Regions from separate parts of the Homo sapiens genome. Here region 2 is reported to be linked to region 1. The links are microRNA targets in miRTarBase. Many come from high-throughput screens and were not tested one by one. Region 1 holds a microRNA gene; the other region holds the end of a gene's coding sequence.

What was found. The annotated mature microRNA hsa-miR-5189-5p reads UCUGGGCACAGGCGGAUGGACAGG and lies in region 1 at 3,169-3,192, shown strand. An mRNA with a match to its seed (bases 2 to 7 or 8) in the 3' UTR can be bound and repressed. Matches are read on the target gene's strand: a 7mer-m8 pairs with bases 2 to 8, a 7mer-A1 pairs with bases 2 to 7 and ends in A, and an 8mer does both.
Region 2: miRTarBase lists TBCCD1 as a target of hsa-miR-5189-5p. The part of its 3' UTR that is shown has no 7-base or 8-base seed match.

What each region holds. Positions count from the first base shown.
Region 1 is chr16:88,465,775-88,470,164 of GRCh38, forward strand. MIR5189 (microRNA 5189) reads left to right here and starts at 3,144; the gene lies at 3,144-3,257. All of the region lies in intron 1 of ZFPM1 (zinc finger protein, FOG family member 1), which reads left to right.
Region 2 is chr3:186,547,634-186,552,023 of GRCh38, forward strand. TBCCD1 (TBCC domain containing 1) reads right to left here. Exons shown (of 8, transcript NM_018138.5): 7 at 3,496-3,646. The coding sequence ends at 3,517. Among named protein-coding and RNA genes, the nearest start is that of CRYGS, 5.4 kb to the left of the region's middle.

The DNA.
Region 1 (4,390 bases):
CGCGGCGTCTGTCTGGATAAAGCCGCCTCCTTCAGCTGATCCGAGATCCGGCGCTGATGGAGCGATTAGCGGCGATTAGAGCCCGGCGTGCGGCTAATCCTCCTGCTGAGGGACAGGTGAAGCAGCCATAGGGGTGGAGGAGGGACAGGTGAAGCAGCCATGGGGTGGAGGGTGCCAAGGGGCCCGCCGTGCACGGGGGAAACCAAGGCCACGCAGCTACGATGTCTCCTTGAGGCAGTGGCCCGGCCGCTCCCTCGCTGGCAGAAAGGCTTCCTGTGGAGCCGCCTGGGCTCCCAGTGGGTGCAGGCCAGCTTGCCATTTCCCCCTTCCTGGATTTTATATTTTGAGTGACTCTTGAGAAATGAGATCCTCTGGGAACCCAAAGGCAGGATCCCTGGGGCGGTGTGGATGGTGACATTTCTGGGTGGTTCTGGGACCCCCAGTTGTAGTGATCCTGATGGCGGCCGTGGTTAGACAACAGCTCCGTTACCCAGCCCCGGCAGTTCTGGCATGGAGTACTCTGCAGCCCTGGGAGGGGCGCCTATGACCTCATTCTCCTCAGAGAACTGAAGGCTCAGCGAGGTTGAGTAACTCACCCAAGATCACACAGCATGAAGAGAACAGAAGGGACCCTGGCTTCTGGCTTAGAGTCTAGCCGAGGTCAGAGTCTCCATCCTGGCTGGAGGTTCTGGGGTGTTTGCAGTGGGGGGCAGCCCACGAGCCTCCCAGGGGGCTCACCCGTACCTTTCAGGGAGAAAGGCCAAGCACAGAAAGGGCAGGGGACGGCTGAGGGCCGCACAGCCCATCCTGGCAGTGGGAGGGGATGGGCGGAGGCTGGCCTGCCTCTATTCTTGTTTCTTGGGTTCATTTCATCTGTCCCCAGAAAATAAGCTCCTTTGGTGAGAAAGTTGGTTTCTTTCTAACTTTTGGGTTTGGTTTTGTTTCAATATTCTAAAAGGAAGTCAGCTATTTCCAGTGCAGTGGGGTGTGTATGTGGGGGAGGGGGGTAAATGTCAGCTCCAGTGACCAGCGTTTAAATCCTGCCCCCTGGCCGGCAGCCTCTCAGTTTCCTCACTTGTATCATGGGCATGATCACAGTTCCAGCCTCCTTGGCCTTTGAGGAATTAGGGCAGAAGTGGGTAAAGCATCTGGGGCCCTTGTGCGGCAGGGCTCAGTGAACCCCAAAACGGCGGTGGTATTAATGGGGGGACACGAGCCGGGGCGAGGGTCCCTGGGGTGGGGCCACCTCTCCAAAGCCCTCTCTGCCCGCAGCCCACCCTCCCTGAATCCTACTGGCATTCTTCCTGCACGGTTTTCCGCCAACGGCTACAGTGTGCCGATGACCTCAGTGATGTCACCTAGGGCCTCGTCCCATCACACAGCGGCCAGAGTGGCTCCAGAACATTTGTCCCTGTGATCCAAGAGTCTACCCCTTGTCAGTCCCCCATAGTTGCCACAGTCACCCAGACCAGGAGCCGCAGCAAACAAGCAGGGGGTACAGCATCTGTCCCCATGGCCCTGGTTCTCACACACATCCCAGAGTCTCAGGTCTCAGTTTCCTCATCTGTCAAATAGGGCCGACACCGCTAAGCCTGCCCTGCAGGCCATGGCCAACCCCCCTGAGGTCTCCCCACCCCTCCCAGCGGTGCCCACCCAGGGCTTCTCGAGGAAGGAGCTCAGCACCCGCCCCAGTGACACTTCACTTCTCTGGGCTTTGCTGCCTTTTCCTATAAAATGGGGTGCCAGTCGCCCTCTCAGAGTCCTTTCAAGGAGCTGATGGTGTAGACCGCGAGACCTGCCTTGCAGGGCACATGCGCAGCTGCTCCTGTCATGCTGGGACCTCCGGACCCCGGGCCTCGCAGCTGCCTTGGATCCCCTCCCTCCTCCAGTCACGGGCTCTGGGCTGGCTGCTGGGCGTGTTGGGCACAGCGGGCCCTAAGCTGACCCGTGCCCTTTGTGGCTGGGACCTGAGATGGGGAGGCCCCCACCCCCTAGTTCCATGGCTTTGGGAGGTGGGGGTGGGGTGTTTTCTACTCTACCACCCTACAACGAAAAAGAAGAAAAGAGAACTTGATAAAAAAGGGCGATGCGTGCTGTGCGGTGGAGGAGGTGCTATCGCCGTTATCTATCTGCTTGCTCGAGCTGAGCGGCCCCCCTTCCCCTTATCTCACCCCACCCTAATGCCAGGAACAAAAGTGAGAACACACTCTCAACCCGCACACCCGCGAGCCCCCCACCGCCCCTCACACACCCGCGAGCCCACCGCCCCTCACGCCCCCGCGAGCCCACCGCCCCGACCCACCCGCGAGCCCACCGGCCGCTGACGCACCTGCGAGCCCACCGCCCCTCACGCACCCGCGAGCCCACTGCCCCTGACCCACCCGCGAGCCCACAGGCCCTGACGCACCCGCGAGCCCACCGCCCCTCAAGCACCCGCGAGCCCACCGCCCCTCAAGCACCCGCGAGCCCACCGTCCCGACGCACCCGCGAGCCCACTGCCTGCGGCGCACAGAGCCACCAGATCTAGAGGGAGAGCTGAGCACTCGGGGTGCTCTGAAAGTCATCATCATCATCATTTTGCAAAGAAAGCCCCCAAATAGCCCTCCCTGAAACAAGGCAGCCAAAAATAAGAAGTCGCTCTCAACAGGCCCCCACAGGAGAAAAGAGGCCGGCCTTGGAGAGGGGTTGGGACTTGGGGCCAGGTCCCAGCTGTGCCGGCCTCTTGGCTGTACGACCTTGGACCAGTATCTTTCCCACTCAGAGTCATCCCTGAATGGATGTCAGGGAGCCTTCGAGGAAAGGGGAGAGCCTGCACTGTAACTGAAGCCCCCCACCAGCCCCATGCAGCTTTCTGACCCTAGACTTGGGGCTGGGACCAGTCACCCAGAATCTGATACCCCCAGGGCCCCGCCCCCCAGAGCCCCACCCCCATGGCCAGGGCACCACTGTCCTAACCAGCCTGTTGGCAGCCAATGGAAATGGGGTATGCAAATGAGCAGGGGTGAGGCCCAGGGATTGGCTGAGCTGCTGTGTGGGGGCAGGGCCTCCTCCAGGGGCTGCCCTTGACCTGGGGGAGTAGTTCCCATCCTGGACCCTGCCCCAGGACGGGAGACCTCTGCCACCACCACCACCGGCTCTGGAAGGGCCCGCCTTTTAGGGGCCTCGCTGTCTGGGCACAGGCGGATGGACAGGCTGGCCTCTGGATGACCTGCCAACCGTCAGAGCCCAGACCCACGTGGCCTCAGTTGGGGACCAGGACCCAGGAGTTCCCGAGAGGAGTGCAGCCAGCAGCCACTCCCAGATGGGAACAGCGAGTTTCACAACCCGGCAGGGACGGCCCTGGGGCCAGCCAGCCTCCCACCCCCATGTCTGGGCCCACTCCAGACCCTCCTGCAGGCTGCCCCCCACCGCTCCACCCTCTCCCCGCGCTGACTTCCATCCGGAACCTCATTCTGCCAAGCTTCTGAAGTGCCGGCCGGGCCAGGGACGTGGCACCATCTTAATGAATGACAGTCCCAACCCCTTTGCCCACCCTCAGCCTCCCCATCTGTAAAACCGGAAGGCGGTCTAGTAGGTCTGCCTCCCAGGATGGTTTCTGGGCTCTTCAGCAAGCCCCTTGCCGGCCTGGGCCTCAGTTTCCCCTTCCACACCATGAGGCTGAGGTGGCAGGTTCTCTGGGGGTCCTCCTGTCTGTGGCTGTGGCATAGCCTGGAAACCTGGGGTCTTCCAGATTTCCCATTGTCAGAAATTCATGTGCCAGGAGACCATGTCTACAGGGGGCTTAGGACACCTTAGGGGGCATGCACCTGTGTTCTGCATCCACCCACACTGCACAGTGGGTCTTGCTGGCAAGACCAGGATGAGGCAGGCTCCGCCGGCCTGAGACCTGGCTGGAGGCCCTGTCAGCTCCCACGGCACCTGAAAATCAGCCACAGGTGTGGGTGTTTGTCAAAAATGTGTAAGTGGAAAATAGTGGCGGGGCGAGGAGAGAAAGAGTCTGGGCTGAGATCTAAGGAGAGGAAGTAGGGAGGGGCCGTCCGACCAGAACCAGACATCACCTTGGCCAGGGCCCCACCCCCTAACGTGGGGTGCAGTGCCTCTCACGTGGTGAGGGTCAGAGGTGCGTGCCCAGCCCAGAGGATCTCCCCACGCAGCCCTCCCAGTCTGCAGAGGGGTCTCCACACATGCAGGCAGCTCTGTCCTCTCCCAGGACAGCTTGGGGCATACAGTAGGTGCTCCATAAATACTCCCCAGCTGATTTCTGGATCTGCTCCCTGTGCCTGGCTGTGTCCCCAGAGGCAAAGCAAGCAGAAGGAAAAAGGAAACGGAGAAAAAGCCAGGGCCTCCAGAGCCAGCATTGTCCTGGGCAAAGGCCCCTCCCGTGTAGGAG
Region 2 (4,390 bases), not on the chromosome of region 1:
TCTCGCTCTGTCGCCCAGGCTGGAGTGCAGTGGGGTGCTCTCGGCTCACTGCAAGCTTCGCCTCCAAGGTTCACGCCATTCTCCTGCCTCAGCCTCCTGAGTAGCTGGGACTACAGGCACCTGCCACCACGCCCGGCTAATTTTTTGTATTTTTTAGTAGAGACAGGGTTTCACTGTATTAGCCAGGATGGTCTTGATCTCCTGACCTCGTGATCCACCCGTCTCGGCCTCCCGAAGTGCTGGGATTACAGGCATGCTAAATTCTTTAAAAAAAAATACACCCTTAAGAAATGTAAATATTTAAAGCAAAAAATACACTTTTACAGCTTTGGAAAACTGCAATTCCTTTAAAAGTTAAATATATTCCTCACAATTCCGCTTCTAGGTATATATCCATGAGAAATAAAAACAAATGTCTACACAAAAACTTGTACACAAATGTACACAGCAGCATTACTCACAACAGCTGAAAAGTAGACACAAGCCAAATGTCCATCAACTGATCAACAGATAAACAAAATGGTAGATCCACACGATGGAATATTATCTGGCCATGAAAAAGAATGCAGTACTGATACATGGCTACATGGATGAATCTTGAAAACACTACACTAACTGAAAGAACCCAGACACAAGAAGCCACATGTTATATGATTCCATTTACATAAAATGTCCAAAATGGACAAAGTAGATTAGTGGTGCCAAGGACTAAGGGGAAGAGGAAATGTAGGGGTTGGAGGAATAAGGAGTGGCCTACAATGTGTACGAGCTTTATTTTGAAGGTGATGAAAATGTTCTAGATTTTTTAGTGGTGATAGTTGCACAAACTTCTGAATATACTTAAAAGCTACTGAATTCTTTACTTTAAAAAGGTGAATTTACTTCCCATAATGTTATGTGGTAATATTTTATCTCAATAAAATTTTTAAGAAGTTTTCTCCCACCCTAGACACCCAATCTCATTCCTCAAAGACAAACACTGTTTATAATTTCTTTATATTCTTTCAAAGATTGTTAGGCATATAATTAGCATATAAATACACTGCATTTGGGGTGTTTCTAGTCCACAGTTTTTTTAAACAATGCCACATCAAACATCTTCAGTTACAAAATTTCGGTTAGCTAAGAGGAATACATTGAAGAGATCTAATGTACAACATGGTGACTGTTGTTAATAACAATACTGTGTGATCTTGAAAAAAACAAAGAGAGTAGATTTTAAGTGTTCTCACTGCAAAAATGACAACTATGTGAGGTTCTAATGTTAACTAGCTTGATTTGGCCATTCCACATGCATATATATTTCAAAACATCATGCTGGAAATGATAAATATATACAATTCATCTGTCAATTTAAAAATTAAATAAATAGGCCAGAAGCAGTCGCTCATGCCTGTAATCCCAGCACTTTGGGAGGCCAAGGTGGGCAGATCACCTGAGGTCAGGAGTTCAAGACCAGCCTGGGCCATCATGGTGAAACCTCGTCTCTACTAAAAATACAAAAATTAGCCGGGTGCGGTGGCCGGTTCCTGTAATCTCAGCTACTCAGGAGGCTGAGACAGGAGAATCACTTGAACCTGGGAAGTGACGGTTGCAGTGAGCCGAGACCGCACCACTGCACTCCAGTTTGGGGGACAGAGTGAGACTCCATCTCAAAAATAAATAAATAAATTAATTAATTAATTAATTGATCCCTACATACATGAGTTTATCTGTAAGATAAATTCTATTAATAATAAGTGAAACTGCTAAATCAGGGCAGGTGCAGTAGCTCATGCCTGTAATCCCAGCACTTTGGGAGGCCGAGGCAGGAGGAACGCTTTAAGCCAGGAGTTTAAGACCAGCCTGGACAACAAAGTGAGACCCTGTCTCTAAAGAAAAATAAAAAGATCAATTGGGTGTGATAGCATGCACCTGCAGTCCCAGCTGAGACAGGATTGCTTGAGCGCAGGAGTTGGAGGCTGCAGTGAGCTATGATTGTGCCACTGCACTTTAGCCTGTAAGAGAATTAGACCTCATCTCTAGAAAAAGAAAAAAGAAATCGCTGAGTCAGAGAAAATTTGTATTTTTAATTTTGATTTTGTCAAACTGCCCCCCACAGAGGTTACATATACACTTTCCTAGTGGTAAACGAAATGTTTTGCCAGTATTGTGTACTACCAGCTTTTGCTCTTTGCCAGTCTAATAAAAAATAGTATTTTACATTTCTTTAATTTTAAGTAAGCATTTTTGTGTCTCTAAGTATTTTTCTGTGAACTATCTATTATTGTCCTTTGTCTGTTTTCTATTGCTAGCATTTAAAAATACTTTAGGCCAGTTCCGGTGGCTCACGTCTGTAATCCCAACACTTTGGGAAGCCGAGGTGGGCGATGTTCAGGAGTTTAGGAGTTCAAGATCAGCCCAGCCAACATGGTGAAACTAAGTCTCTACTAAACATACAAAAATTAGCTGGGCACGGTGGTGCGTGCCTGTAATCTCAGCTACTTGGTAGGCTGAGGCAGGAGAATTGCTTGAACCGGGGGAGCGGAGCTTGCAGTGAACTGAGATTGTGCCACTGCAACTCCAGCCTAGGTGACAGAGGGAGACTCTGCCTCAAAAAAAAAAAAAAAAAAAACTTTAAACTAACACAGTATACTAATCTCTATTAAAAAAGAATACCATACGTTTGGGGCTGGGCGCAGTGGTTTATGCCTGTACTCCCATCACTTTGGGAAGCCAAGGCAAGTGGATCACCTGAGGTCAGGAGTTTTGAGACCAGCCTGGCCAACATGGTGAAACCCAGCCTCTACTACAAATACAAAAATTAGCCAGCTGTGGTGGTGCATGCCTGTTTTCCCAGCTACTCCGGAGACTGAGGTGCGAGAATCACTTGAACCCAGGAGGCGGAAGCTGCAGTGAGCTGAGATGGCGCCACTGCACTCCAGCCTGGGCGAGAGACAGAGACTCAGTCTCAAAAAAAAAAAAAAGAATACCATATGTCTGGATTAAATTTACTTCCAGTAAATTTGTTTGTATGCATATTCTCTTCTATTTAATCCATGATCTTCTAGTGTTCAGTAATCAAATCTTCATTTGGATTAATTCTGGTAATTTATTACTGCTAATATGTGTAATTAGCAAAGATCAGCTAATTTGTAAATTGGTTTTTGTGAGGGGAATGGATAAGAGGAAAGGTTTAGAAAAGGAGAATAAAACTTAGAACTATGTATGGGGGAATGTGGTATCTTTGGACAGTACAACTTGTCCCAGGCAAAAAGCAAAATAAGACAAAATTTGGCCATTATATTGGCCCCAAATTCTATAGGCTCCATCTGAATATTTTGGTTGGTTTTCTCACTATAAAATATGGTAAATATGGGTACATAAAGGTCCGTGTATGCTGGTAGGAGCGGTAGAAAAAATTTGGGCATGTTTAGTATATAATATTCTGTGCCTTTTTTTTATGCTTGAAAGATTTCCCCAAAAGAATCTGTTTTAAGTGGTATAAATGCCTACCAGTGTCTGCATGTAAGATCCTTATCCAGCTGCTTGTTTGGAGCCTGCTGCAGGGGGTACAAGGCTGTCCAGCTGTTGGCGATGTCCTGTATTAATCAACCATTCATAAAACTTGTTCTCTACCAGTACCTGGAACTGCTTCCTTTGATCCCTAAAATTGCGATTATGAGTAAAAAGAATATAAGAACATGAATTCATATAAATTGTACTCTAAGCAATTATACAATATTTTAATAGGATAATGTTAAATGATTAATTATTTCTTGTTATCCTTTTGTTCTCACTGTTCAGAGTACACTGGACACCCCCACCCCACAAAGGATTGATCAGATACAATGTCCTCTTTCTACTTTTTCATTGTCAGATATTTACCAAGGACCAAGTGAACACTGGGTACTGTTCTGACTGATGGGGATAAATGTATAGAGAAGAGACAAGGCCCCTGTTGAAGCAGGATGACACTTCACGACTCCAGAGGGCACCATTCACATTGTGATCTGTGTAATCCATGCTCCTGAAGACTATATATTCTAGTAGGAAAGATAGGTAAAAATAAAATAAATAGGCCGGGCATGGTGACTAACGCCTGTAATCCCAGCACTTTGGGAGGCCAACGCGGGTGGATCGCTTGAGGCCAGGAGTTCAAGACCAGCCTGGCTAACATGGTGAAACCCTGTCTCTACAAAAAATATAAAAATTAGCCAGGCATGGTAGCACATGTTTGTTAAGTCCCAGCTACTCGGGAGGCTGAGGCAGGAAAATCGCTTGAACCCAGGAGGTGGAGGCTGCAGTAAGCTAAGATCACACCACTGCACTCCAGCCTGGGCAACAAAGCGAGATGCTGTCTCAAAATAAATACAGTACAATACAATACAATACAATAAAAATATAATAT